3 separate regions of the Homo sapiens genome follow, and all the other regions are linked to region 3. Evidence: fine-mapped expression QTL. A gene starts in region 3. Each other region holds a variant in brackets. All regions are shown on one strand. Distances are between the middles of the regions.

Region 1 (11,236 bases), 810 kb after region 3:
ACCCCGGGAACAGGAGAAGTGGGGCAGAGTAGGGAGATGACAGGGTTGGGACTGGGGCTCCTGGGTCTCTGCAGGGCTGAGCCACCTGAGCTGGCTTGGAGTCCCCACTTGGGTTAGTGAACACTTTTTTTCCACCATCACTGTTCCTCCTCTCTGCATTTTAAGCAGAAGGTGAAGTCTCAGGGGAGGCCCTCATTATACAAGTGCTGAGCTGCGCCCCCCTGGCCTGGCATTTTGTTGGTGCTTACACAAGCATGGGGAGGGGATAATTCTGAATTTATGTGGCGCCCCCTGCCACCCGCCCCTGCCCCCCGCCAGCTCTGTGCTCATGCTCAGCTGAGTCTGTGATATTCAAAGTTCGTGTTGCCTATTACTGTTAATGAGGGAAAGAAGTCTGGCTAGAACTGTTCTCCCTGGTCACAGCCTGCTGTTGACCTCCCTTAATGAATGCCAGCTGTAGCTCCAGTCAGCTATCCTGAGAATCCCCTGGGACACAGGATGTACTTTTTTTTACCTCTGTTTCTCCCACGGGGTTGGTGGGGAGGGGGCTTCCTACTCTAGTCAGCTGCCAAACGCCCCCTTTCTATGATCTCTTTTCCCCCCTTAAGTTTAAATGACCTCTTCTGCAGCATTTTATTGATTTCACATTCCTCCACCTTCATTATTTGCTTTGAGCCTCATGGCATGCTTGAGAGGTGGGCAGGGCGGGCGTGATTGTTCCCTTTTATAGTCTAGGAAATACAGCCCAGCTGATAGGTGTCCAAGGTTAGAGAGGCCAACTGTTCCTTCCACTGGTCACGAGCAGCCCGTCCCAGCCTCAGATGACCTCTCCCTTTCCGTCCACCTGTGACACTCAAGAACACCCAGGGCTGCCTCCCATTGTACCTATTTAAGAACTTCTTCTTGGCCAGGCGTGGTGGCTCACACCTGTAATCTCAGCGCTTTGGGAGGCCGAGGCGGGTGGATCACCTGAGGTCAGTTCAAGACCAGCCTGGCCAACATGGTGAAACCCCGTCTCTACTAAAAATACAAAATTAGCCTGGTGTGGTGGTACACGCCTGTAGTCCTAGCTACTTGGGAGGCTGACACAGGAGAATCACTTGAACCTGGGAGGTGGAGGTTGTAGTGAGCCGAGATCGCACCACTGCACTCCAACCTGAGTGAGACAGAGCGAGACTCCATCTCCAAAAAAACAAAACAAAACAAACTTATTTCCCTAAGTGAATTGTGAAGGCACTGAAGGCAGGGACTGTTGCTCGCACACATCTCTTGCCTGCCAAAGCACCAGAAGGGTACAACAACGAGGACTAACATTTACTAAGCAACATGCCAGGCACTTTCACATACATTATCTTTTCATTCCTCAAGTAATCTGTGAAGTGGGAACTATGATCACTCATCTTACAGAGGAGGACACAAGTTCAGAAGCTAAGGGACCTATCTGAGGTCACGCTGCTAGTAAGCTGAGCACCACAAATGAGTGCCTCAGAAGGCAAGATCCCCAGATGGAGATCTAGAAAGAAACTGGACCCAGTTTTAGAAAGAAGTGGTCCAGGCCGCACGAGCAGGGTTGTTCTCACCTCAGCAAGACGCACTCTGCTCCAGGAAATGACGATAAGGGGTGGAGAGATCAGGGTGAGGTTAAATAAAGGTCTTGTACTATTGACCCTGGAGAGGCCTCTGCTGGTTGGCAGTATCTTCTGGGGCATGAGCTCAGAATGAAACACTAGCTCAACTGCAGGGCATTCCCGGCTAAAGTGCCTTATGAGTTGCTTCTGGATGAGGGTGGCTGAGTTTGTCCCAGGGCAATCTGCCACTTCTTTGAGGTCCTCTCTCAAAATTCCCTTCACCTTGGCCCTGGAGCCGGGGGGAGGAGCCAGGGTTGTCCCTTCTGGAGAGTTGGAGGGCGGCAGACTCCCAGGAGGGTTGGGCCATGCCTGTGTGGGGAGGAGGCAGATTCCCAGTGGAATCTGATCCCCAGTAAAGGGGAATACTGCTGTCATGATTGGGGCTGAGGGTGGGTCTGTAGTTTAGTCTGCGCTGAGGTTTTCCATCTCAGCATGCCTAGAGATCACCCAAAGAGCTTGTGGAAAGAGCAGCTTCCCAGGCCCCATCCCGAGAGAGTTTGCTTCAGTGGGTTTGGATGAATCGTTAAGCCCTGCAGTGACTCTGACACAGGCAGTCTGCAGACCCCACTTTAAGGAGCACTGCTGACCATGAAACAACCCTTCTCTTCTGAGCAAGGGGAGGGAGCCCCGCAGAGGCTTCTAGGACCCGAGCCCCTCCGAGGAGAGCCATATTCTAATTGCCCTGGGGTTGAACAGCACCAGCCGAGTCCAAGTGAGTCCTGCTCCACTCCAAGCCCAGCACGCAGCACCCTGAGAGCTGATACTTCCCCACCATGCCAGCTCTGTTGTGACACATCTCTCTTCTCCACTCCTTTCTACAGTGGATCCAGCCCTGCCTTGTCAAGTTCTGAATGTTCTGGGAGGCACCAGCGTTTCTATCTCCTGTGCCACTTCACAGATGGCACAACAAAGCCAAGACTCCCTAAGTCATATTATCAAAGTTGCTCTCTCAAGACCTTTAGTTATGCAAGCTTCAAGGTCCTGCCCCTATTCCTGAACCCCTGCTGCATTTGTCTGGATCAGCCCTCCAAGCAGTATTTCTTGCTGTGGCATGCTGTTGTTTTCAAAATGTATTTGTCCTAGGAGTAGGGAGGGGTACATAAGGTAATGGAGGAGACACAGCATCCAGCCCTTCTGCCCATATGCTTGCCTGTCCATCTGTCCACCCGCCATCTACCCGTGTATCCACCCACCCACCACCCACACATCCATCCATCCATTCATCCCTGCAATCAGCAGGTCAGCCCCCATTGTGGGAGGCACGTGGCAGGGGATCTAGAGATAGGATTTCTTTTTCCTCCTCTGAGAGCTTGCCACCTAATGGGCACACTAATAACTACAGAAAAGGCAGATGTCGTCAGTGCCCCAAGAGAGGCGTGTGCGGGCATTAGTTGGCGAGCGAGCCCATGCCAGCCCTTGGTCAGTCTCCAGCAGAGCCTCTTCCCTCATTCCAGCTGAGGCAGGGCTGGAATAGAGGTATTGGATTGTCTCAAGCCCTAGATAAAAATTTCTCCCCTACTTTCTCCAAAGCCAGATGATAAGCATTGCTGTCTGATACCCTGGTCCTGAGTATGCCAGTGTCACTCAGAGGAGAGTCCCTCTTCCCCTGATGTCTTATGTCCAAATGTAAAGCCAGGCCTTGGGGCTAGGGAATAAAGCCTGCACAAGAGGGGAGATGCAACCACAGCAAGGAGGCCCTCCTGCCACAGGGTGCACTGGTGGTCTGGGCCCCCCCGCATCCAGCCCAGGTTGGGGCAAGGCCTGCAGGAGACACTGGCATGTCACATAGAAAAGGAGAAGGTGAGAAGAGTGGTTCATTGGGCGCAGCAGAGCATTCCTGAGAACACTACTGGACTATCCTCGAGTGCGCGGGCCCTGAGTGGGCTTTCTAGGCAGAGTGGGAAGGCCCCTCCCCTCGGCACGGAGCCCCAGGGGCACCAGATGTGCCAGGATGACTTCTCTTGTTTGTCTCCACCAGGAGCAGCCTGTCAGTCATCAGTCAGGTTGGGAGTCGAGCCCTCAGCCTGGCTGTTCTCCATCAGTGGCTGCCTCCCCAGCCTATCCCCGGTCCCCAAGGGTAAACTCACCATGCCGTCTCTTCCCGGGGAGCTGGAGCGGCTGGGCCCAGGGGCCTGACCCTTTCCCGTCTCCCACAGCGTGTAGCGGCCAATGGGTCGGTAGGTTGGGCTGATGATTTCAGGGACTCGTGAGGGAGGGGCCTGGGAGGGCACCTGAGATGCACTGCCCTTGCGACCATAGTTCTCCAGGTAGTCGACCAGGTATTCAGGGCAGCTGGCTGTCTGGTAGAGCCCCTGCAGGGTGCAGAGCTCCTTGCGCGTCCGGGCCAGCATGGGGCTGCGGCCCAGGTTCCTGGGGTCTATCCGGTAGCTATCTGAGGTCCGGAGGCTGGAGAAATCCCGGGCCAGGTCTGATTGGCTGTCCAGCTTCTGGGTTAGGGTCACCCCCTGGTCATAGGCATTGATGGGCAGGTAGCTGAGGCAGTTGTTGGTCACTCCATAAGGGAATCCGCTGCCCCCGCTGAGGCCACTGCCTAAAGGCCGCTCAGTACCCCGGGTCTGGCTCTCTGCCCGCTTACCACCCCCAGTGATGTCGGGTCTCAGCAGGGGGCGGCCCCGGTCATAGTCCAGGAGGGAGGAGGGGCCATAGGTACGGGGACGGGTGAGGAAGCTGCTGGTGGGGACCGGCTTGAAACCAAGTTTCTCCTTCTCCAGTAAGGAGGCAGCCAGATTGGCCCCATAGGAGGACGGGGTGTAGGCACCATAGCCCGACTTGGCATAGTGGGCATCTGTGTAGCGGGCCGATTCTGTGTAGCGCTTCAGGGTGGAGGAGAGCTGGGACATCCTTCAGGGTGGCACTCAGTGGGGACTGGGAGCCTCATGGGCTGAAAGACAAGGAGTGTAGTTGTCAGAGGGCCCTGCCAGGTGTCGGGCTCCCACAGACCTGCTCCCCATCCTCAGCTGGGCCAGAACCTCAGAGCTCCCAGTCCATTTCCACAAGAGGCAGGCTGGCTGCTGAGAAGCACACATGCACGCAGGTGTGCACAGGAGCTTGCTTGCACCTGTGTGTTCACACCTCGGTGAGAGTGCGAGGGATGAGGTGGCTTTTATATGCCACACAGGAAGTCAGCGCATCCTGGCCATTCAAAGACTCAAACACGCAAGCAGGGGCTATCTGACCTCCACAGCCCACCAAGCCGTGCAGTCTTCCAGGTCAAATCCCATTGCCTCAGCATCTGCAGAAACTCTTGAGCTGGGGGAATGCCACTGACCCCTGGGTTGAGAATGCTGGATATTTCAGGAGTTAAGACCACATCTGTCCCTTCTGACTTATGTGATGAGCAGGTGTCTTTTTGGAATCCTAGACTGTCTGTGCTGGAATGACCTGAAGATCATTTGGTCAGATCCCCTGTGAGGCCAAGGAGGCTCAGGGGAGGAAGTAATGGGGTGTGGGTGGGCAGGGGAGGCCGTGAGTGAGCATGCAACAATGAGGGGCCAGAACGTGGTCTCCAGACCCTTTCCCCAGACACCAGCACCTGCTGCATGGTCCCACAGTGAGGGACACTCACTTCACTGAGCTAAGCTTCTGTTCTAAGTGGAGTTAGGGCCCTGTGGCCTCCTAAGAGTTCCTCTACCAACACAGGCTTCCTCTACAAACACAGATCTCAAATTGGTCCTGGCGATGCTTGTGCAAAGGGGGCCCCCTACAGTCCCAAATCTTGCACTGCAGGTGGCATTCCCAGTCCTTCCCTGCTCCAGTCCTGCAGCTGGGGAGGGTCTAGTGAAGGAACACAGACACTGCTGAATGTGGAGCTTTGAGAGCCCCAGAGGATCATGAATTTTAATCTATCTGTTATACAGATGGGAAAAGTGATGCTTATTTGCCCCCGGCCACACACCAGCAGAGCCAGGACTGGAATCCAGGTCTTTAAAATCCTGGCCAGTGTTCTTTCTACTTAACCTGGAGTTACCTCCCCCGCATCAGATTTAGGGTCAGTTGGGGACCCCCAGAGGCCTTCCATCACCGTAAACGTGCAGCCTGTATCCAATGGAGCTGGAGTGGCAGAGGAGCAAGTAGGGTCAGACGCCTTTCCCCGAGGGCATCAGGGGCTCTTGGGGGGCTTTCTAGGGGGATGGAGCAGAGCCATCCAGGACTCTCAGAGTTGTGGGACTTGCCCTGTGATGGACTAGCTGGGTGATTTTGCACTAGTCACGTAACCTCTCTGAGCCCCAACTTCCTCATCTGTAAATGAGTAAAACCATCATCCTCATAATTCCTACCTCACAGGGCTGTTGTGAGGAATAAATGAGATAACAACACGTGAAGGGCTCCACAATGACAGTGGCTACCATCTCCTCCCCCAGCTACTGCGAGGCAGCATGGCTCCGCCCTCTGAAGGTCTGTGATAATATCAGGGCTGGCTGTCTCCCAGCCTGGCCAGCCTCTGGCCTCAGCTTGGGATGCCAGGCCTCCCCCTGCAGCCCCCAGCGAGAGAAACAGGCAGTGGGCAGACATCTGGCCACTCAGCAGACACTGGCTTGGCAACCCAGCCCATTAGGGCAGAGAGGAGCTGGTGCCAAACCCCAAATGCGAGGGCTTGGCAGAAAGCTCTAGAATCCCAGTCCACACAAGGCTTTGGGGTAGGTACAGGGGTGAGAGATGAGCAGGTGGCTTCCATATAGGCCCGGAACAGCATTCCTTGACCCTGCCTGAGAACTCCAGCAGTTTTCAGTCCAGGCTGACATCAGAAAGGCCTGGTCCATCTTACTGTCTAGCCTTTTGCCACCTGGCCCAGGGGGCCCCTGGCCCTTCATGTACACTCCTTTGCCCACTGTGCCCAGCACAACTTTCACCCCTTTCTAGGAAAAGGTAACTGGGGGATGATGTCACACAGCGTTAGAGGGAAACCATAGCGGGAGAGACAGACAGAGGCACAGGGTCGGGGTGGGGGCCCAGTCCTGCCCTATTTTGCTTTGGAGAACTCCATCAATAATGCAAAGTCAAAGAGACTCCAGGTCTCAGGAGCTGGGCTCTGGGACACCAGGCAGCCAATCAGATACAATCCCCCCAACAAGGGTATGAGCTCATGGCTCCTCCCCACAGCTCTCCCTCTCCCTCCCCCACAGTAAGGCTCTCAGGGAATTGGTATTCTTCGGGCAGCGCCCCAAGCCCGTGACATCCCTTGACCCTGCTGATGACGCAGAAGTGCTGGGGCCAAACGAGGTCCAGAGGACAGGGACAGACAGCTCTGAAAGGCTTTGGAGCCGGAGGTGGGGCCACATCTCTGGCCCACAGATTCCCAGGAGGGCTCCCAAATCCCCACTCTCCCTCCCATCTGGCAGGTGATTGCCAGACCCCTC[C/T]GCCTCCTCCTAGCAGCCCTGGGAGTCATGCCATCACTAATACTCCATGGAAGCTGCCTCTCGGCTCTGACTTCTAGCTACAGTTCCCATGCCTGCGGAGAGGGTTCCTACTGGGGCCGGGGCCTTCCACATGTCTCTCCCCTCCCGCAACCCCCAGTTTCACTCTCAAAGGTCCTAGCACCTTCCAGGTGAAAGCACAGCCTGGGTTGGTGCCCCTTGGCATTACCTGCACAGCTGTCCCTGGAGGCCACAGAATGCACTATGGGCAGGAGAGCGGGCTGGGGCCCTGGCCGGAGTCTCGCTGCGCAAGACAGGGACAGGACGGGCACTCACGTGGCTGCGAGTCTCCCTGTTGCCACAGGAACAGCCTGAACTGAATGGCCCTTTCATGGGGCAGTGGGAGGCAAGCCAATTGGCTGGGATCCCCCATACCCCTCCCTGCCCAGTGCGGGGGGCCCCTGCTGCCCAGCTCCTTTCACTGTTTACCCAGAGCTGGCAAGTACAGGCATGCAGCTCCAGGCAGCGCCTCTCCAGGTGTCCGCCACCTTGGACAATGGGGGCAGTCCCCTGCCCAGCTCCTCCTCCTGGCCATCTTCACTGAGGTGTCCTGACCCTTCCTTCTCTGTCAGAGATTCCTGTTGCTTTGCTCAGTTTCCCTCTCCTGGGAGGTGCAGCAGAGTTCCTCTGCACAGAGGCACTGGGCTTCCTGTCAGGGCATCTGAGCCAAGCAGCTGTCACCCCAGCTGGCTGGTGCTGATCACCTCTGAACCAGGCCCCAGGCATGTTGAGTACTTCACATGCAGCTTCTGAGTCCATCTTCTCTGCAGTCTCACATCAGCTCTCATCGGCCCTTGCCATGTGACGCATTCTTCTAGATGTGCTTCATACACAGAGCACCCCAAAAAGTCTTAGTGCAGGTTTAAGCTGGGATTCTTTCAGACATAAATGTCTCCAACTTACACACCTCTTTGGACAGATTAAATTATTTAAATTAAAATTTAAAAACATTTTCACAATTAAAAAATAAATATACAAGAAATTTAAATATGGAAACTTTCAAATGAAGTTTTTAGCATTCATATTTCTGAAGTTATTAAAGCTTAAAACTGCACTAAGGCTTGGGACACAGTGCATTAACTCACTGAATCCTCCCTGCTCCTTTAAGCGGTAGGTGCTGTTATCACGTCCATTTGCAGATGAGGAAGTTGGCGATGCTGGGAGTGATGTGGATTTCCCAAAGTCACACTGGGAGCAGTGGCAGAGCTGGGCTGGACTCGTGCTCTGTCTGCTATATCTGGCCTGAAGCCCAGACCCCTGCTTCACTCTTCCCTGGCTCTCCATGGGACGGGTCAGGACTGGGACCTGTGGGTGGGGTTTGAGGGAAGGACCACCACAGGATCCAGGTGTCCGTCATCCAGTAACAGCATGCGGTGTACAGACTCTGGCAGGAGCAGCCCTCTGGATTTTCCACTGCAGGTGAATGAAAGTGAAGCCAGGTGCAACTCGAGCCCCAGAACAATACTGATAGGCCGAGAGATGGTCCAGGAAGCCTCCATTTCACCCACTGTGCCAAGCCCCTGCATGTCCCCTGGCACCAGCATCTACCCCAGCTCGGGGCCTTGGGTCCCTGGCCTGGTTATGAGCAAGTCCCTAGCCTCCTACCCTGGCTGCAGCTTGGCCCACTCCTCAAGGTACCCATGCTGGGTGAGTCAGGGGTTAAAATGAACCCTGTCCCCGTGGGGCAGCCAACCCCTTTGCTTCAGCCACTGTCATTTCCTGTTGCTCACATGAAGGGCTCCCTAACCTGCCCAGCCAGGGGAGGGACTTGCTCCCCAGGAATTCCAGGCGCTCCTGGCCCTGGGGGCAGGGGATGGGTGATGCCCCACATCCCAGTAACCTTCATGGCTTCTCTCTGCCCAGATCTGCTTGGCTTTCTGGGGTGAAAGCCTGCTTTGCTACTGGGGCCTGGATAGAGAGCCTCTAGCTGAGTTTCAGAAGCACGCCTAAACAGGGTTAAGTCTCTTCCCTCCTACTCAGGTGCCCGGAAAAGGTGAGTGGGGAGTCCCAGCCAGTCCCGCCAGGTGGTTGGGAGCCCCCACAGTGGTGACCTCAGAGCTTCCTAAAGCCACTTGCTAACAGCATCAGAATGTGCTGACCTTGAAGGACAAGGTGGGTGAGAGGGGGCCCTGTATCCTTCCATCTGCACTCTGACCCTGCCTCCCAGCTGCTTGGGTCACCTGCTGCACTATCTGGGCACAAGTGTCTGGTCCTGGAGGATGGGATGAGGGAATCCTGGCAGGTGTAGAGGACATGGGTAGAGTAGGGGATGGGGGGGCGGGGGCATATTTATGCTCAAACAGTCCTTGAACTCCGCCTACTCCTCTCAGGCCCCAGGGCCTGGGCTGGCCTCCTCCCCTCCAGCCTGTCACTAGGCTTTGTCTATCAGGGGCTAGCACCCGCTGATCCACCAGCCTAATCCTCTTGCCTCCCCTGGCAGGGGGTCATCCAAGGGAATTTGGGTCCATTTCTCTTTCTTGTGCTCCCAGTAGTTACCCAAGAGCTGGGGGAGGGGAGGAGGTAAGATAAAGAGACTGGAGATTAAGGCAAGAATCCTGACTGGTGGAGAAGAAGTGGATGGGCCCAGGGCAGTTTCTATAGGGTGCTCCTTGATTTGGGGTTGTGAGTGGGTGGGCATCTATACACTTCCAAGACAAGGCAAAGAAATGGGCCTCCAGGTAGTATTGGGATCCTTAAATTCTCTTTTCCAAGCACCTCTGCCCAGGTACTCTCCTGGTGCCCCCTCCCAAGGGGAGAGCCCCGGTCTCCTTCCTTCTCCTCTAGGGCGTCATCTTTCCTCTGTTCTCAGCCTCCGGAGGAGCCTTTGGTCTTGCCCCTGACACCCACCGGGCCCAATGGGGTGGCCTCTCACATGCTCTCCCAGATTCACTGATGTCTTTCCTCTAGGTAGAGTCCCAGAGAAGCTCAGATACCAAAGGGGCAGCTACTGACCTGTGTCCAGGGGCACTGGATGGGAGCTGGGGGCTTCTCCTTCCCCAGCAGGGCAGGGAATGCAGTGGAAAGCCCAGAAGCTGGAGCCTGACTCTGGGCTGGGTAATCCGGAGCTCAGGTTACTGACTCCGATATATATAGTATCTTATCTGACCTCGCAGACTCGCAGAGATGGCGAGTGCAACTCACTTGCATTCCAAGCCCCAGGAGAATTAAAGGGGCAGTGGCGTGCTCACCTTGAGGGGCTGCCCTTTCGGGCCAGTGCCAGCCAAGGAGGTCTGTGAGGACTCTTGGAAGGGGGGCATTTTGAAGGGGAACAATCGGGAGATTCAAGAGGAAAGAGCATTGAAAAGAGCACAGAGGGGTGGGGGTGGAACTTGAGACAAAAATATGGAGAAAGTGGATTTTCCAGAGCAGTCAGTCACAGAATTAGAGAACAGGAAGAAGCCATACAGTTAGCCCCACTCTTAATTTTGAGATAGAGTAGACCTAGAGAAAGAAAGCAGCTTGCTCAAGGGCATGTGCAGATAGCGAGAAGCAGAAAGGGGACTAGTACTCAGGTTTCAGTCCAATATTCTTTTCTAATGGACTTCTAGGCCTGGGATTGGAGGCTAGTTCTTTCCCTTATTGGCTCTGAAATAGTGGATAAGTCACTTAAGTTCTCTGAACCTTAGCTATTTAATCTGCAAAACGGGACTAATAGTAATAATAGTGGTCTATCTCAGTTGTGAGGATTAAATAAAATAATATTTGTAAATTTCATGGCCCATAGAGTTCAATAAACATTGATGATTATATTGAATACTTCCACTTCTTATTATAATTAGTGGTATTATTAATAATAGCGCCTTACCAGGTGAACCTTCCTAGGGAGAAAAGGAGGGTTACTCCTGGGGAAGTGTTCCTTTCTCTTTTTTTTTTTTTTTTTTTGAGACGGAGTCTCCGTCGCCCAGGCTGCAGTGCAGTGGCGCGATCTTGGCTCACTGCAAGCTCCGCATCCTGGGTTCACGCCATTCTCCTGCCTCAGCCTCCCGAGTAGCTGGGACTACAGGCTCCCGCCAGCACGCCCGGCTAATTTTTTTGTAATTTTAGTAGAGATGGGGTTTCACCGTGTTAGCCAGGATGGTCTCGATTTCCTGACCTTGTGATCCGCCCGCCTTGGCCTCCCAAAGTGCTGGGATTACTGCACTTTGAGCCACTGCTCCCGGCCGGAAGTGTGCC
Region 2 (11,236 bases), 160 kb after region 3:
GGACAAGAGGAGACTAGAAATCATCGTCCCCACCCACTCCAAGATAAATGCATATTTGACTGTTTCCTGTACTCTGTTTATTTTGTCTTATGTAAAGTGCCAATTTACCATGTGAGATGAATACAGAATTGACTGTTCCTTTTACCCCCCGCCCCCACCCCCTTTTTTTTTTTTCTTTTTTTGAGACGGAGTCTTGTTCTGTCACCCAGGCTGGAGTGCAGTGGTGTGATCTTGGCTCACTGCAACTTCTGCCTCCCGGGTTCAAGCGATTCTCCTGCCTCAGCCTCCCCAGTAGCTGGGATTACAGGCGTGCATCACCACGCCTGGCTAATTTTTGTATTTTTATTAGAGATGGGGTTTCGCCTTGTTGGCCAGGCTGGTCTCAAACTCCTGACCTCAGGTGATCCTCCCACCTCGGCCTCCCAAAGTGCTGGGATTACAGGCGTGAGCCACCGTGCCCGGCCTTCTACTCCCTTTTTTTCCTGTGCAACATGTGGATTCAGTGAGCTTAAACAAAGCCGCAAAACAAAGTGACCATATCCTCCCTCTTTTTTTTTTTTTTAATGTTCCCTTTCCCCTCCTGCCTGCTTTTTCCCCTTTACTTTTTATTTTTATTTTTTGAGATGGCGTCTCTCTCTGTCACCCAGGCTGGAGTGCAATAGCGTGATCTTGGCTCACTGCAACCTCCGCCTCCCAGGTTCAAGCGATTCTCCTGCCTCAGCTTCCTGAGTAGCTGGGATTACAGGTGCATGCCACCACACTCGGCTAATTTTTGTATTTTTAGTAGAGACAGGGTTTCACCATGTTGGTCAGGCTAGTCTCAAACTCCTGACTTTGTGATCCAGCTGCCTCGGCCTCCCAAAGTGCTGGGATTACAGGCCTGAGCCACTGTGCCCGGCCACTTTCATGCACGTCCGTGTAAAGAGACCACCAAACAGGCTTTGTGTGAGCAATAAAGCTTTTAATCACTTGGGTGCAGGCAGGCTGAGTCCAAAAAGAGAGTCAGTGAAGAGAGATAGGGGTGGGGCCATTTTATAAGATTTGGGTAGATAAAGGAAAATTACAGTCAAAGGGGGTTGTTCTCTGGCAGGCAGGAGTGGGGGTCACAAGGTGCTCAGTGGGGGAGCTTTTGAGCCAGGATGAGCCAGGAGAAGGAATTTCACAAGACAATGTCATCAGTTAAGGCAGGAACGGGCCATTTTCACTTCTTTTGTGGTGGATTGTCATCAGTTAAGGCAGCAACCAGCCATCTGGATGTGTACGTGCAGGTCACAGGGGATATGATGGCTTAGCTTGGGCCCAGAGGGCTGACATTCCTGTCTTCTTATATTAATAAGAAAAATAAAATGAAATAGTGGTAAAGTGTTGGGATGGCGAAAATTTTGGGGGATGGTATGGAGAGATAATGGGGGATGTTTCTCAGGGCTGCTTCGAGCGGGATTAGGGGTGGCGTGGGAACCTAGAGTGGGAGAGATTAAGCTGAAGGAAGATTTTGTGGTAAGGGGTGATATTGTGGGGTTGTTAGAAGAAACATTTGTCATTTAGAATTATTGGTGATGGCCTGGATACAGTTTTGTATGAATTGAAAAACTAAATGGAATAAGAGAAGGAGAAAAACAGGTATAAAAGGTCTAAGAATTGGGACGACTCAGGACATCTGATTAGAGAGTGCCTAAGGAGATTCAGCATAGTCCTGCCAGCAAAGATTATTTATTTACTTCAAGAGGTAAGAGTGGCAGTTTGGGGATAGCACCAGGAGATATCAGCTGTGATGGCTTAGAGAAACAGTGTAAACCGGCAGTGTAAACAAGAGCAGAGCATGTATGAGTAGTTGAGAACGGTGAATAGGAGTATGACTAGACAGAAGATAGTAGGGATGACAAGTTTTTTTGGGGGCACGGTGGAAGTTGGTCTGATGTCTGGAATGAGACTGGGGCCTAATAAAAAGGAGCATCTATACAGGAGCTCAAATGGGCTGTACCTTGTAGCATTCTGAGGACATGTCTGACTTCTGAGAAGGGAAAGTGGTAAAAGTATTGTCCAGTCCTTTTTAAGTTGGTGGCTGAGCTTGGTGAGGTGTGTTTTTAAAAGACCTTTAGTCCGTTCTACTTTTCCTGAAGACACAGGACAGTAAGGGATATAAAGGTTTCACTGAATACTAAGAGCCTGAAAACCTGCTTGGCTGATTTGACTAATAAAGGCTGGTCTGTTAACAGACTGTATAGAGGTGGGAAGACTAAACTGAGGAATTATGTCTGACAGAAGGGAAGAAATGACTGCGGTGGCCTTCTCAGACCCTGTAGGAAAGGTCTGTACCTATTCAGTGAAAGTGTCTACCTAGACTAAGAGGTATTTTAGTTATCTGACTCGGGGCATGTTGAGTAAAGCTAATTTGCCAGTCCTGGGTGGGGGCAAATCCTCGAGCTTGATGTGTAGGGAAGGGAGGGGGCCTGAATAATCCCTGAGGGATAGTAGAATAGCAGATGGAACACTGAGAAGTTATTTCCTTGAGGATAGATTTCCACGATGGAAAGGAAATGGGAGGTTCTAAGAGGCCGGCTAGTGGCTTGTACTATAGCATAACCTGCCTTTGCTGGTGTGTGGCGATTAGGCCTGGTGGAAACCACCATCAATAAATCAAGCGTGATCAGGGTGAGGAACAGGAAAGAAGGAAATATGGGGAAATTGGGTGAATGTCAGGTGGATCAGAGAGATACAGTCATGGGGGTCAGGTGTGGTATCAGGAATAATGTGGGAGGCCGGATTGAAGTCCGGGCCAGGAACAATGGTAATTGTGGGACTTAACAACGAGTGAGTACAGCTGAAGGAGCCAGGGAGCAGAAAGTATATGCGTCAGGTATGAGGAAGAAAATAGATTTTGGAAGTTATGAGAAATGTAGAGAGTAAGTTGAGCATAGTTTGTGATTTTGAGGGCCTCTAAAAGTATTAGGGCGGCAGCAGCCGCTGCACGGAGACATGAGGGCTAGGCTAAAACAGTAAGGTCAAGTTGTTTGCACAGAAAGGCTACAGGGTGCGGTCCTGGCTCTTGTGTAAGAATTCTGACCGCACTAACCATGCCTAGGAAGGAAAGGAGTTGTTGTTTTGTAAGGGATTGAGGTTTGGGAGATTAATCAGACATGATTAACAGGGAGAGCACGTGTGTTTTTATGAGAATTATGCCGAGATAGGTAACAGATGAGGATGAAATTTGGGCTTGACTGAAGTAATGGGGGCTGTCTGTGAAGCCTTGTGGCAGTACAGCCCAGGTAATTTGCTGAGCCTGATGGGTGTCAGAGTCAGTCCAAGTGAAGCGAAGAGAGGCTGGGATGACGGGTGCAAAGGAATAGTAAAGAAAGCACGTTTGAGATCCAGTACAGAGTAATGGATTGTGGAGAGAGGTATTGAGGATAGGAGAGTATATGGGTTTAGCACCATGGGGTGGATAGGCAAAACAATTTGGTTGATAAGGCATAGATCCTGAACTAACTTGTAAGGCTTGTCTGGTTTTAGGACAGGTAAAATGGGGGAATTGTAAGGAGAGTTTATAGGCTTTAGAAGGCCATGCTGTAGCAGGCGAGTGATAACAGGCTTTAATCCTTTCAAAGCATGCTGTGGGATGGGATATTGGCATTGAGCCGTGTGAGGGTGATTAGGTTTTAATGAGATGGTAAGGGGTGCATGATTGGTCACCAAGGAGGGAGTAGAGGTATCTTATACTTGTGGGTTAAGGTGGGGGAATACAAGAGGAGGACGCAAAGGAGGCTTTGGATTGGGAAGAAGGGCAGCAATAAGATGCAGCTGTAATCCAGGAATAGTCAGGGAAGCAGATCATTTAGTTAAAGTGTCTCAGCCTAATAAGGGAACTGGGCAGGTGGGGATAACTAAAAGGAGTGCTCAAAAGAGTATTGTCTAAATTGGCAGCAGGGTTGGGGAGTTTTAAGAGGTTTAGAAGTCTGGCTGTCAATACGCACAGCAGTTATGGAGGCAAGGGAAACAGGCCTTTGAAAAGTAGGTAATGTGGAGTGGGTAGCCTCCGTATTGACTAAGAAGGGGAAGGACTTACCCTCCACTGTGAGATTACTTAAAGCTCGGCATCCGCGATGGTCTACGGGGCTTCCAAGGCGATCAGGCAGCATCAGTCTTCAGCTGCTAAGCCGAGAAGGAGTCAGTCAGAGAGCCTTGGGCCAGAATTCCAGGGGTTCTGGGAGTGGCTGCCAGGTGAGTTGAACAGTCCGATTTCCAGTGGGGTCCCGCGCAGATGGGACACGGCTTAGGAGGAATCCTGGGCTGCAGGCATTCCTCGGCCTGGTGGTCAGATTTCTGGCACTTGTAGCAAGTTCCTGGGGGAGGAGGTTCTGGAGGAACGCCTGGCCACTGCGGTTTAGGCGTTTGGAAGTTCTTGTGGGCTGGAGATGTGGCTGGGGTTTGTCTCACAGTAAAGGCAAGGAATTGCGACTTTTTTCTATTATTGTACACCTTGAAGGTGAGGTTAATTAAATCCTGTTGTGGGGTTTGAGGGCTGGAATTTAATTTTTGGAGTTTTATTTAATGTCGGGAGCAGATTGAGTAATAAAATGTATATTGAGAATAATACAGCCTTTTGACCTTTTAGGTCTAGGGCTGTAAAGCATCTCAGGGTTGCTGCCGAACGAGCCATGAACTGGGCTGGGTTTTTTATATTTGATGAAAAAGAGCCTAAACGCTATCTGATTTGGGATAAAGAAAAAGGAGCATTAACCTTGACTATGCCTTTAGCTCCAGCCACCTTTTTAAGAGTAAATTGCTGGGCAGGTGGGGGAGGGCTAGTCACGGAATGAAACTGTAAGCCGGACGGGTGTGTGGAGGGGAGGTGATAAAAGAATTATAGGGTGGAGGAGCAGAGGCTTGAAGGGGTGGGTTGCCCCTCCACACCTGTGGGTGTTTCTC[G/A]TAAGGTGGAACGAGAGACTTGGAAAAGAAAAAGACACAGAGACAAAGTATAGAGAAAGAAATAAGGGGACCCGGGGAACCAGCGTTCAGCATATGGAGGATCCCGCCAGCCTCTGAGTTCCCTTAGTATTTATTGATCATTCGTGGGTGTTTCTCCGAGAGGGGGATGTGTCAGGGTCACAAGACAATAGTGGGGAGAGGGTCAGCAGACAAACACGTGAACAAAGGTCTTTGCATCATAGACGAGGTAAAGGATTAAGTGCTGTGCTCTTAGATATGCATACACATAAACATCTCAATGCTTTACAAAGCAGTATTGCTGCCCGCATGTCCCACCTCCAGCCCTAAGGCGTTTTTCCCTATCTCAGTAGATGGAACGTACAATCGGGTTTTATACCGAGACATTCCATTGTCCAGGGACGGGCAGGAGACAGACGCCTTCCTCTTGTCTCAACTGCAAGAGGCATGCCTTCCTCTTATACTAATCCTCCTCACACAGACCCTTTATGGGTGTCGGGCTGGGGGACGGTCAGGTCTTTCCCTTCCCACGAGGCCATATTTCAGACTATCACATGGGGAGAAACCTTGGACAATACCTGGCTTTCCTAGGCAGAGGTCCCTGCGGCCTTCCGCAGTGTTTGTGTCCCTGGGTACTTGAGATTAGGGAGTGGTGATGACTCTTAAAGAGCATGCTGCCTTCAAGCATTTGTTTAACAAAGCACATCTTGCACAACCCTTAATCCATTTAACCCTGAGTTTGACACAGCACATGTTTCAGAGAGCACGGGGTTGGGGGTAAGGTCATAGATTAACAGCATCTCAAGGCAGAAGAATTTTTCTTAGTACAGAACAAAATGGAGTCTCCTATGTCTACTTCTTTCTATACAGACACAGTAACAATCTGATCTCTCTTGCTTTTCCCCACATTTCCCCCTTTTCTTTTCGACAAAACCGCCATCGTCATCATGGCCCATTCTCGATGGTCGCTGTCTCTTCGGAGCTGTTGGGTACACCTGCAGACTAACAACAGACAAAACAGGCACACAAGGATTAATATGAGATTTATAATTGTAGTACTTCCGATGGTCTTAACCCAAGTGACAGGGTTAAGATTTGCGAGGCCATCAGCAACTCCTGCAATTGCCTCAGTTCCTGGCACCAAATTTAAATGGGCTTTTGATGCTTCAAAAATTTTTTCTTTTAATTTGGAAATGTCTAAAGTGAGATTATCTTCTCTTCCCTGTAGATGGTGTCTAACCATGTCCCAGTGATGCTCAGACTCATTATAAATTTGGGGTGTAATACAAAAGTCTGACGTATTGCAGTCACACTGTAACTGGAAACGACGTTCTAAGCTCATGAGTCTGTCTCCTATCCAAATGAGTTTGTCTAAGATGATTAATTTGATTTGCCAATTTTTGATCAATACTAGATTGTGAATTCCACAATCTTGCAGAATTCTTTTGCCAATCATTAACAAAGTTTACCGACTGAACAGAAGAGTGCAATGCAACTCCTGCCACAGCAGCCGTAGCTGTGACTGCAATTAATCCCATAATCACTGCAATTAAAGTAAAAATGAATCTTTTGGATCTATTTAAAATGCCTTTTAATACTTCAGTCAAAATATGGATGGATGGCGAGGCCTCCCACGGTCTGTCCATGGACACAGGGATCCACACGCCTTCTCTTGCTCTCACCAGCAGAATACGCTGCTGCCAATTAAAAGTTGAATCAATGCAAGTAAACAATCTACAATTTTCACAGGTTATAGTTTGGGAGTCTGGTTTAATAACTATATTTCCTACAACTAGCATATAAGGGGGCTTTACGCAACTCTGTAAAGGAACCGTTAGACTGGAATTTAGGTCGATAGTATAAAATGGCTTACGATCTCTTGTTTCTGAAGTTTGATTTCCAGACCAAATTCTAATGTGGTGTGAGGCCACAATAAGCCTCCATAATTCTGGATGTTCAGGACCAGAAACAGGACTTATTATTTTTGGTCTTGGGGTAGAGATTCCTTTTTCTCCCCATTCCCAAGGGTACAAAGACTGTAATTTTTTATGCTTATGTTTGTCTAGACTTTCTGTTAAGTCGCTATCAACAGCTGGACTCACTTGTGCACTTGGACACAACTGAGTTTGTCCTGAGCAATTGTGATCGAATTGACCTCGAGGTGCCCAATCTATAATAGTTCCGAATTCATTGTTTTGTAATATCACCGCACTATTGGCCACACATTCTTCCCAAACTAAAACTTCTGTATTTTTTGATTCTTTGGGAATTTCCTTGGGGCAAGGTTTTCCTTTAGGTCTAAATTTTAATGATCTTTGATAAGAAAAGTCCTGTAAATAATTTACTCGTGGCCTGAGTGACATCCCGCTTACCATGTGATAAGTGAATCTACCGTTAGGACTGACAGTAGGTACTTCTACCAACCAATTTTGGACTGCATGTATTAAACATCCTGGTGCTCTCCCTAGGCAAATAGGATAACGATACCCAGTGGAAATATTTATCATTATCCCTTCTTCCTCAGGTTTGATAGGGCAGCGATCGTCTGTGGGGCCAGGTACCCGTACACTATCATTAACATATACTTCTATAGGATTATCCATCCATGTGACTGGTGTTACCATCTCTGTGGAGGCCCTTTTCTTTGCATCTCCGATGGGTTCATTGTAGAACTTCAAATGTCTAGTGGGTATCCAAACAGGAAGCTGATTTTCTCCTGGTGAAACACAAGCAAACCTCTCCCCCACGTTATCACCTTCCCTATTTCCCATGTCTTATTTTTATTATCTTTCCACCAAATTAGTTTTCCTTCATGTGGGCTGTTCTTTTTACCAGTAAGATGTTGTTCTGCAGAAGTAGTAGTCTGATTTCTATAAATGTTTAAAAAAATTTAAAGTATAGAGTGCTAGATTAAGTTGCATCTGAGGAGTGGTACACTCCTTACTGTCTCCCCCTTCTTTTTGTTTAACTAATTGAGTTTTGAGTGTTCTATTAGTTCTTTCAACTATGGCCTGTCCTTGGGAATTATAAGGAATTCCTGTTGTATGTGAAATTTTCCACTGACTTAAGAATTTTTGGAAAGCTTTACTACAATATCCTGGTCCATTGTCAGTTTTGATTTTTTCTGGAACTCCCATGACAGCAAAACAAGACAATAAATGTTTTTTAACATGGGAAGTACTTTCTCCTGTTTGGCAAGCTGCCCATATGAAATGTGAAAAGTATCAACTGTTACATGAACATATGATAATCTTCCAAATGAAGGAACATGCGTGACATCCATTTGCCATAACGCATTAGGACACAGACCTCTGGGATTAACTCCTGCCTCTTGAGTGGGCAGGTGTAAGACCTGACACTGGGTGCAATGTTGTACAATATCTTTTGCCTGTTTCCATGTGACATCAAATTTGTTTTTTAATCCTGCTGCATTTGCATGAGTCAAAGCATGAAGTTCTTGTGCTTTTATGAATGCAGATGATACCAGTAAGTCAGCTTGTTCATTTGCTTTAGTCAAAGGCCCTGGTAAATTAGTGTGTGCTTGAATATGAGTAATATAAAATGGGAAATTTCTTTTTCTTACAGTTTGTTGTAATAAATTGAATAGCTGGTTTAACTGATCATCCATGCTATATTTAATTAGAGCTGTCTCAACATCCCTTGTAGCCTGTACTACATATGCAGAATCTGATATAATATAGATAGGTTGGTCAAAATCTTGTAACACTGTAATGACTGCAACCAACTCTGCTCTTTGAGCCGATTGATATGGAGTTTTGATTACTCGTTCTTTCGGCCCTGTGTAAGCCACTTTTCCATTGCTGGAACCATCAGTAAATACTGTTAGAGCATTTTCTAAAGGTTCACGTCTGCTAATTTTAGGTAGAATCCAAGTAGTCAATTTTAAGAACTGGAAGATTTTTGTTTTTGGGTAACGATTGTCAATAATTCCCACAAAATTAGCAAGACCAATCTGCCATGCACCAGAATTGATAAAGGCTTGTCTAACTTGTTCCTTTGTTAAAGGGACAACTATTTTGTCTGGGTCATTTCCACATAATTTTATTATTCATAATCTTGTCTGACCAATTAATGTAGCTATTTGATCCAAGTACAATGTAAAAGTCTTAACTGTACCGTGAGGAAGGAATGACCACTCCACAAGATCAGTATTTTGAACAATGATGCCTGTTGGAGAATGTGCAGTGGCAAAAATCAAAAGTTGGAATGGGGCTAAGGGATCTATTCTATTTATTTGCGCTGACTGAATTTTTTCTTCCACTAATTTAATTTCTTTTGTTGCCTCTGGGGTTAACATTCTTTTACTATTTAAGTCTGAGTCTCCTCTTAAGATAGAGAACAAATTTGACATGGCATAAGTAGGAATGCCTAGAGTTGGCCGAATCCAATTAATATCTCCCAGCAATTTTTGAAAATCATTTAGTGTTTTTAATGTGTCTTTCTTATTTCTATTTTTTGTGGCTTAATTTTTCTATCTGCATCCCTAAATAATGAAAAGGAGTAGAGGTTTGGATCTTATCAGATGCTATTGCCAGTCCTGCATTGGCAACCTCGGCTTGCAGAAATGTATAACAGTCAATTAATTTATCTCTCGTTTCTGCAGCACATAAAATATCATCAAAATAATGAATAATATAGCCGTCTGAAAACTTGTCTCTAACTGGTTGAAGAGCTTGACCTACAAAAGTCTGACAAATAGTTGGACTATTAAGCATTCCCTGAAGTAACACTTTCCACTGAAACCTGGTGGCTGGTTCTTTATTATTTATGGCTGGTATAGTAAAGGCAAATTTTTCGCAATCCTGCTCCACCAGAGGGATGGTAAAAAAGCAATCCTTTTGATCAATTATAATTAAAGGCCAATCTTTTGGGATCATGGCCAGAGAGGGTGACCCAGGTTGGAGAGGCCCCATGGGTTGAATTACAGCGTTTACGGCCCTCAAGTCAGTTAACATATGCCATTTGCCGGATTTCTTCTGAATTACAAACACAGGAGAATTCCAAGACGAGAATGAAGGCTCAATATGTCCCTTTTCTAACTGTTCATTTGCTAATAAATGTAAAGCCTCCAGTTTTTGTTTTGGTAGCGGCCACTGATTTACCCACACCGGTTTTTCTGTTTTCCAAGTTAATGGTATGTGTTTAGGAGGCTCTACAGTGGCCGCCCCTAACAAGGATACCCTATTCCTTCTCTTTCTTGATTTATTTTAGCCTCAACTGGAACTTTAATGCCATCTTCATTTTTCCCTAGTCCCTTTCCTGGTATATATCCCATCTTGGTCATGATTTTTTGACTCCTGGGGCTATATAATGGAGAGGGCATGGTGATTTCCACACCCCATTGTTGTAATAAATCTCGACCCCACAGATTAAGAGGAATTGAAGTAATCATGGGCTGAACAGTACTTTCTTGATTATCTGGCCCTAAGCAATGTAAAATCTCAGTACTTTGATACACTTCTGAGGCTGTGCCTATGCCGACAAATCCTGTAACAGCCTTTTGTTTAGGCCAATTTTTTGGCCACTGATTTAAAGCAATGATAGAGACATCTGCTCCAGTGTCTACCAACCCTTCAAACTGTTTTCCTTGAATAATGGCCTTACACACAGGTCTGTTCTTTGAGACCTGACTTGCCCAATATGCAGCCTTTCCTGTCAGATCAGTGCTTCCAAACCCTCCTGTTCTTTTTATTTCACTATTTCCAACCTTAATATATGGCAGGAGTAATAATCGAGCAATCCTGTCTCCTGGACTGGCACTCCAAGGAATTGAAGAGCTAATAACCAATTGAATTTCGCCTTTATAGTCTGAATCAACCACACCAGTATGAATTTGAACTCCTTTTAGATTTAGACTTGATCTTCCCAAGATTAGTCCTACAGTCCCCTCAGGCAGTGGGCCATATACCCCTGTGGGGATTTTTTGTGGGGGCTTCCCTGGAAGCAGAGAGACTGCTTGTATAGTACATAAATCTACTGCTGCACTGCCGCTTGTGGCGGGGGACAATTGTTGTATTGTGGTAACTGGCTTATTCCCTGAAACACTTGGGACAGTGGGGGTTTTTGTCCCTGAAAACCCTGAGGAACAAATGGCTGAATTGGGAATGCCCCAGTTTGTTGTGGGGCCTGAGGCTGGCCCGTTTGTTCATTTCCCGACAATGGTTGCCTGTTTTTATCAAATTTAGAATGACACTGACTAGCCCCATGTTTTCCTTTTTTACATTTTGGACATAAGTCAGGTGGCTCTCTACCTGTTGTAGTTGCTTGAATA
Region 3 (5,000 bases):
CAGTCTTACATGTCACCCCTTTAGGTCTTCCCTGACCACCCTATCAAAAGTGGGTTTCTGGCCAGGTACGGTGGCTCATACCTGTAATCCCAGCACTTTGGGAGGCCGAGGCAGGTGGATCAGTTGGGGTCAGGAGTTCGAGACCAGCCTGGCCAACATGGTGAAACCCCGTCTCTACTAAAAATACTAAAATTAGCTGGGTGTGGTAATCCCAGCTACTCGGGAGGCTGAGGAAGGAGAATCACTTGAACCCAGGAGGCGGAGATTGCAGTGAGCCAAGATCGCACCACTGCACTCCAGCCTGTGTGATAGAGTGAGACTCTGTCTCAAAAAAAAAAAAAAAAAAAAAAAAAAAGTGGGTCTCCTTCCTCACTGTTATTCTCCTTAACAGCAAACAATCTGCCTCCATCAGTGTGCACTTACCACATTTGGCATGTGTTTACTCATTTGTCATCTGCCTCCCATGATTACCAGCATCGGGATGGCAGGGACATTGTGTCATTTAACACTATTTACCCAAGTGCCAGGCATAAGGCTGGCACACAGTAGGCATTTTAAAATGCTTGTTGGCCAGACACGATGGCTCACACCTATAATCCCAGCACTTTGGGAGGCCAAAGCGGAAGGACTGCTTGAGGCTAGGAGTTCAAGATCAGCCTTGGTAACATAGCGAGGCCTCGTCTCTATAAAATTAAGAAAAAAAAGTTTGTTGAATAAATAAATAGTGTTCAGTCCTTTAAAAACATTCCACTGTGATTTTGGTTGGGGTTGCAGGCTAAGGGGAGGTTATGAAGCATCTTCAAAGCTAGGAAAAACATAAGTTAAAAAAAAAGAAAAGAAAAAGAAAAAGAACAGTGAATTCCTGGCAGACAGTGAGCAAAGCAGTAACATGAAGTAAATGGTGACAGGGTTGGATTGGGGGAAGATCCTGTAATTTGGAAGGCTATGATTTCTCCCCCTTAACTAGTCAGAAAACAAACAATGGCAAGTGAAGTAAATTGACGCTGAAAGTCAACATTTGCTATTATAAAATAAGAACTTCTTGAAGACAACCGTGAATCCATCCTGCTCTTTCAGTAGCATTTCTCTTCTTTCCTCTCTTACCTTGGTGTCTTGGGGTTGGAGTATAAATACTTGCAACCTCTTCGGAGTCGTTAATCTCTAGACGCTCATCATATGTCTGGTTTTCAACAACCTTGGTCTAAGCAAAGGGAGACATAATTCATAGCTCCTATCATGAGACATAAAGCACTCTGCCAGGAGGTATATTCCAAACCAGCATTGGCTCCTCTTCCTTACTCAAGAAACCAGTTTTTCACAAAACCATCACCCCATCCAAACTTTCCTTCAGGCTTCCTGGCCCTCGGTCAAGCAGTTAAGTCATTCTGTTGCAGCCCTTATTTAGGAACTGCTGGCAGGCTGGCTGAGGAACCAGGGAATCGTGGAGGGAAAGAGAGCCAACTTCTGCAGCTTCCCAAAGCTGTACGACCACGCGCAAGGGCAGAACACTATTTGTATGTAGATGGCCAAGGCTGTTGAGGTTTCTCAGGGAAGGCTGTAGAGGTTCTAGAAAGAGTTCTGTCTCTGGAGTCACCTCTGGGGTGGGGTGGGGTGGGGTGGGGTGGGGTGGGGTGGGGTGGGCTGAGGCGGGGTAGGGTGGGAGGGTCCCCGAAGAGAGGGGAAACTCCAGTCTCTCAGTCCCATCCGATAATCCCAAAATCATCACCTCCACTTTCACCCTTATCTTGCAGATAGGATCCCACCTAAGTTTCTTGGGGGAATAAAGGAAGCAGGACGGTTGGTGGTGAGGTGACGAAGGAACAGTTACCACGGAGATTGGAAGAGGTAACCGGGAATGGGGTAAAGGGGAGTCCTCTTAAGCCTCTCTAGAAAGACAGTTCCCTTTTTGCTGGGATGAGTACTAATTACCTGTAGCCCTTCTGAATCCGTCTCCTCTATAATGGAAAGAACCCCAGCCTAGGGCTGGGGTCTCACTCCAGTCTCAAAGCCAGGCCACTTTAGGATTCCACGCCAAGCAACCAGCCTGTTGTCAGTCGCTAGGCAAAAAGATAAATTTTAAAATTCGCGAGAGTTGCTTCCACTCTCGTGAGACCTCCTGCGCGTTAAGCCTCACCCGCGAAGGCTCTCCACGCAGGAAGAAGATCAAGGAGTCACGGATAAAGCCTCTCTGGGCGGCCAAGTCGCCTGTTTGTCTATGGTTTCAGTAAATACGTCTGTTGCGGCATCTAGCGGCTATGGGTGGCAACGCGGCTGATAAATTTCGGGCTGGTGTAGAGTTAGCCCTTCAATCTGGAAACAAGGTGTGCGTTTGTTCCCCTAGGACAACAATCTCTGGGGATGCAGTTGCTCCCAGATCAGTCTTACCAGGATGTAGACACATTCCAGGGGAAATTTCGCAGCACTCTGTAAGTCCTTTTCTAGCACTATATTACACTATAGTCTTTCCCCTCCACAGGGTGCCATGGAATGGAACATACTTATAGCAATAAATTATTCCTTGGGTATCTGAGGTTCAAATTTAACTCTGTGGGCCGGGCGCGGTGGCTCACGCCTGTAATCCCAGCACTTTGGGAGGCCAAGGCGGGCGGATCACGAGGTCAGGAGATCGAGACCATCCTGGCTAACACGGTGAAACCCCGTCTCTACTAAAAAATTCAAAAAATTAGCCGGGCGTGGTGGCGGACGCCTGTAGTCCCAGCTACTCGAGAGGCTGAGGCAGGAGAATGGCATGAACCCAGGAGGCGGAGCTTGCAGGGAGCCGAGATCGCACCACTGCACTCCAGCCTGGGCAACAAAGCGAGACTCCGTCTCAAAAAAAATTTTTTTTCACTCTGTGTCCTGTCTTTCTTATTTGCTAAAGTAGACTTTTAACTTATTTAAAGCAAGACCTGTGTCTAATTAATTTTTAAGCTTTGTAACACCAGTGTATTGCAGAAATTAGACACTAACAATGCTCATTGGGTGGATGAATCGAGGAATGAGTGAATGGAGATGTAAGGAACAAATATTTTCAAACTGTGGACATAATTAATTTGGGAAGTCAGGGAGAGAGAAACATAAAATATTGGAGGCCAGGTGCGGTGGCTCACACCTGTAATCCCAGCACTTCAGGAGGTAGAGGTGGGACGATTGCTTGAGTTCAGGAGTTTGAGACCAGCTAGAGCAACATAGCAAGAACCGCCCCCCTCCACTCTATTAAAAATAAAAAAAAAATTTTTTTTAATTAGCCAGGTGTGGTGGCACGCACCTATAGTGCTAGCCACTCGGGAGGCTGAGGCGGGGGGATTGCTTGAGCCAGGGAGGCAGAGGTTGCAGTGAACCGAGATTGGGCCACTGCATTCACTCCAGCCTGGGCAACAGATCAAGACCCCATCTCAAATATAAATAATGAATAATAACAATAATAATTTTTTGGTCGGGCACGGTGGCTCACGCCTGTAATCCCAGCACTTTGGGAGGCCAAGGTGGGTGGATCACAAGGTCAGGAGTTCAAGACCAGCCTGACCAACATGGTGAAACCCCCGTCTCTACTAAAAATACAAAAATTAGCTAGGCATGGTGGCGCGCGCCTGTAATCCCAGCCACTCAGGAGGCTGCGGCAGGAGAATTGCTTGAACCCGGGAGGTGGAGGTTGTGGTGAGCCGAGATCGCACCACTGCACTCCAGCCTGGGCGACAGGGCGAGACTCCGTCTCAAAATAATAATAATAGCAATACATTTTAAAAAGAAAATAATATTGGAAATTTGACCCTGAAAACCTACCAGAGGTAAACAAGGAAAGTGCCTTTAAAAAATGAGAGACAGCTTTTCTGGCATACTGATAGTTAAAAATAGAACTGCATTTAAAAAAAAATTTGTGATCTGTTTTGCTCGTAATAGTGGATATGTAATGTGCAGTACTTACTATGTAGGAGCACTTAGTTTTTTTGTGGGGAGCACTTAGATTATATCATCTAATTTACTTCACAACCTTATGAGATAGATGTTACTGCCAATCTACAGATTAAGTAATTGAGGCTTAGACAGTTAAAGTAACTTGCCTAAAGTCACTCATAATAAGCGCTGAAAATAGCAGCCAAACACAGGTCAGTCTGATTCCTAAGTCTCTGCTTTTAACCATTATAAGATACTGCCACTATGGGACTCCTCAAGAAGCATGCTTACAGGGTTGCTTTTTCTTCTGTGGTTTAATTCAGCTACCGTTATATTTCCGAAGAAGCAGCATCAACTGGTCTTTGCTGAGCTTCTGAGATCCAAGTTGGAAGCCCTGGAAGGTGCTACAATAAGGCAATAGTTTCTAACAGGATTTTTACTTTTCTAAAAAAATAAGAATTTGTTCCATGTTTCTTAAAATATGTCTGCTTTTTGTAACAAAAATTAAAATTGGGCCAGGTGAAGTGGCTCACGCCTGTAATCCTAGGACTTTGGGAGGCCGAGGCAGGTGGATCACCAGAGGTCAAGAGTTCAAGACCAGCCTGTCCCAACATGGTGAAACCCCCATCTCTACTAAAAATACAAAAATTAGCCAGGTGTGGTGGTGCATGCCTGTAATCCTAGCTACTCAGGAGGCTGAGACAGGAGAATCGCTTGAACCCGGGAGGCGGAGGTTGCAGTGAGTTAAGATGGCACCACTGCATTCTAGCCTGGGCGACAGAGTGAGACTGTCTCAAAATAAATAAATAAATAATAAATAAATAAATAAAAAGTTACCCCATAAATGTGTACAGTTGTTATCTTTTTTAGGACATTTCATCATCCCCTAAAGAAAGTTTGTACCCATTGTCACTTTTTTTTTCTTTTTTTGAGACAGGGTCTCACTCTGTCGCCCAGGCTGGAATACAGTGACGAGACCTCAGCTCACTGCTATCTCTGCCTCGGGGTTCAAGCGATTCTCCCACCGAGTAGCTGGGACTATAGGCATGGGCCACCACGCCCAGCTAATTTTTGTATTTTTAGTAGAGATGGGGTTTCACCATGTT

Which allele goes with the higher level. Positions count from the first base shown, and alleles are read on the strand shown. Sizes are in standard deviations (SD) of each study's normalised expression.
For the expression in T cells of the gene that starts at base 2,071 in region 3, T is the low allele of the variant in region 1 and C is the other (moderate effect, 0.43 SD a copy in GENCORD).
As copies of A replace G in region 2, the expression in lymphoblastoid cells after a statin of the gene that starts at base 2,071 in region 3 goes down (moderate effect, 0.64 SD a copy in CAP).

Evidence for each region. PIP is the estimated chance that this variant, and not a neighbour inherited with it, causes the effect. A credible set is the group of variants that fine-mapping cannot tell apart.
Region 1: its variant is the best candidate, but not a certain one, in a credible set for the expression of IFT46 in T cells (GENCORD, PIP 0.85).
Region 2: its variant is the best candidate, but not a certain one, in a credible set for the expression of IFT46 in lymphoblastoid cells after a statin (CAP, PIP 0.64).

The regions. Positions count from the first base shown.
Region 1 is chr11:119,368,992-119,380,227 of GRCh38, forward strand. It overlaps USP2 (ubiquitin specific peptidase 2), which reads right to left. Exons shown (of 13, transcript NM_004205.5): 2 at 3,716-4,530. The coding sequence starts at 4,489. Among named protein-coding and RNA genes, the nearest start is that of USP2, 7.1 kb to the right of the region's middle. RefSeq lists enhancers at 1-380, 3,969-4,469, 7,336-7,914, 8,231-8,819. The variant C/T (reference allele first, on the strand shown) is at 7,007.
Region 2 is chr11:118,716,130-118,727,365 of GRCh38, forward strand. LOC124902766 (endogenous retrovirus group K member 7 Env polyprotein-like) reads right to left here. Exons shown (of 3, transcript XR_007062912.1): 1 at 7,566-11,236; 2 at 4,064-5,946. Among named protein-coding and RNA genes, the nearest start is that of TREH, 42 kb to the left of the region's middle. RefSeq lists enhancers at 1-272, 273-1,080, 2,695-3,500, 3,539-4,280, 5,021-5,761 and 2 more. The variant G/A (reference allele first, on the strand shown) is at 4,927.
Region 3 is chr11:118,563,861-118,568,860 of GRCh38, forward strand. It overlaps IFT46 (intraflagellar transport 46), which reads right to left and starts at 2,071. Exons shown (of 12, transcript NM_001168618.2): 1 at 1,930-2,071; 2 at 1,105-1,201. LOC124902764 (a long non-coding RNA gene) reads left to right here and starts at 1,201. Exons shown (of 4, transcript XR_007062907.1): 1 at 1,201-1,514; 2 at 1,752-1,845; 3 at 2,342-2,426; 4 at 4,218-4,739. RefSeq lists an enhancer at 2,114-2,343.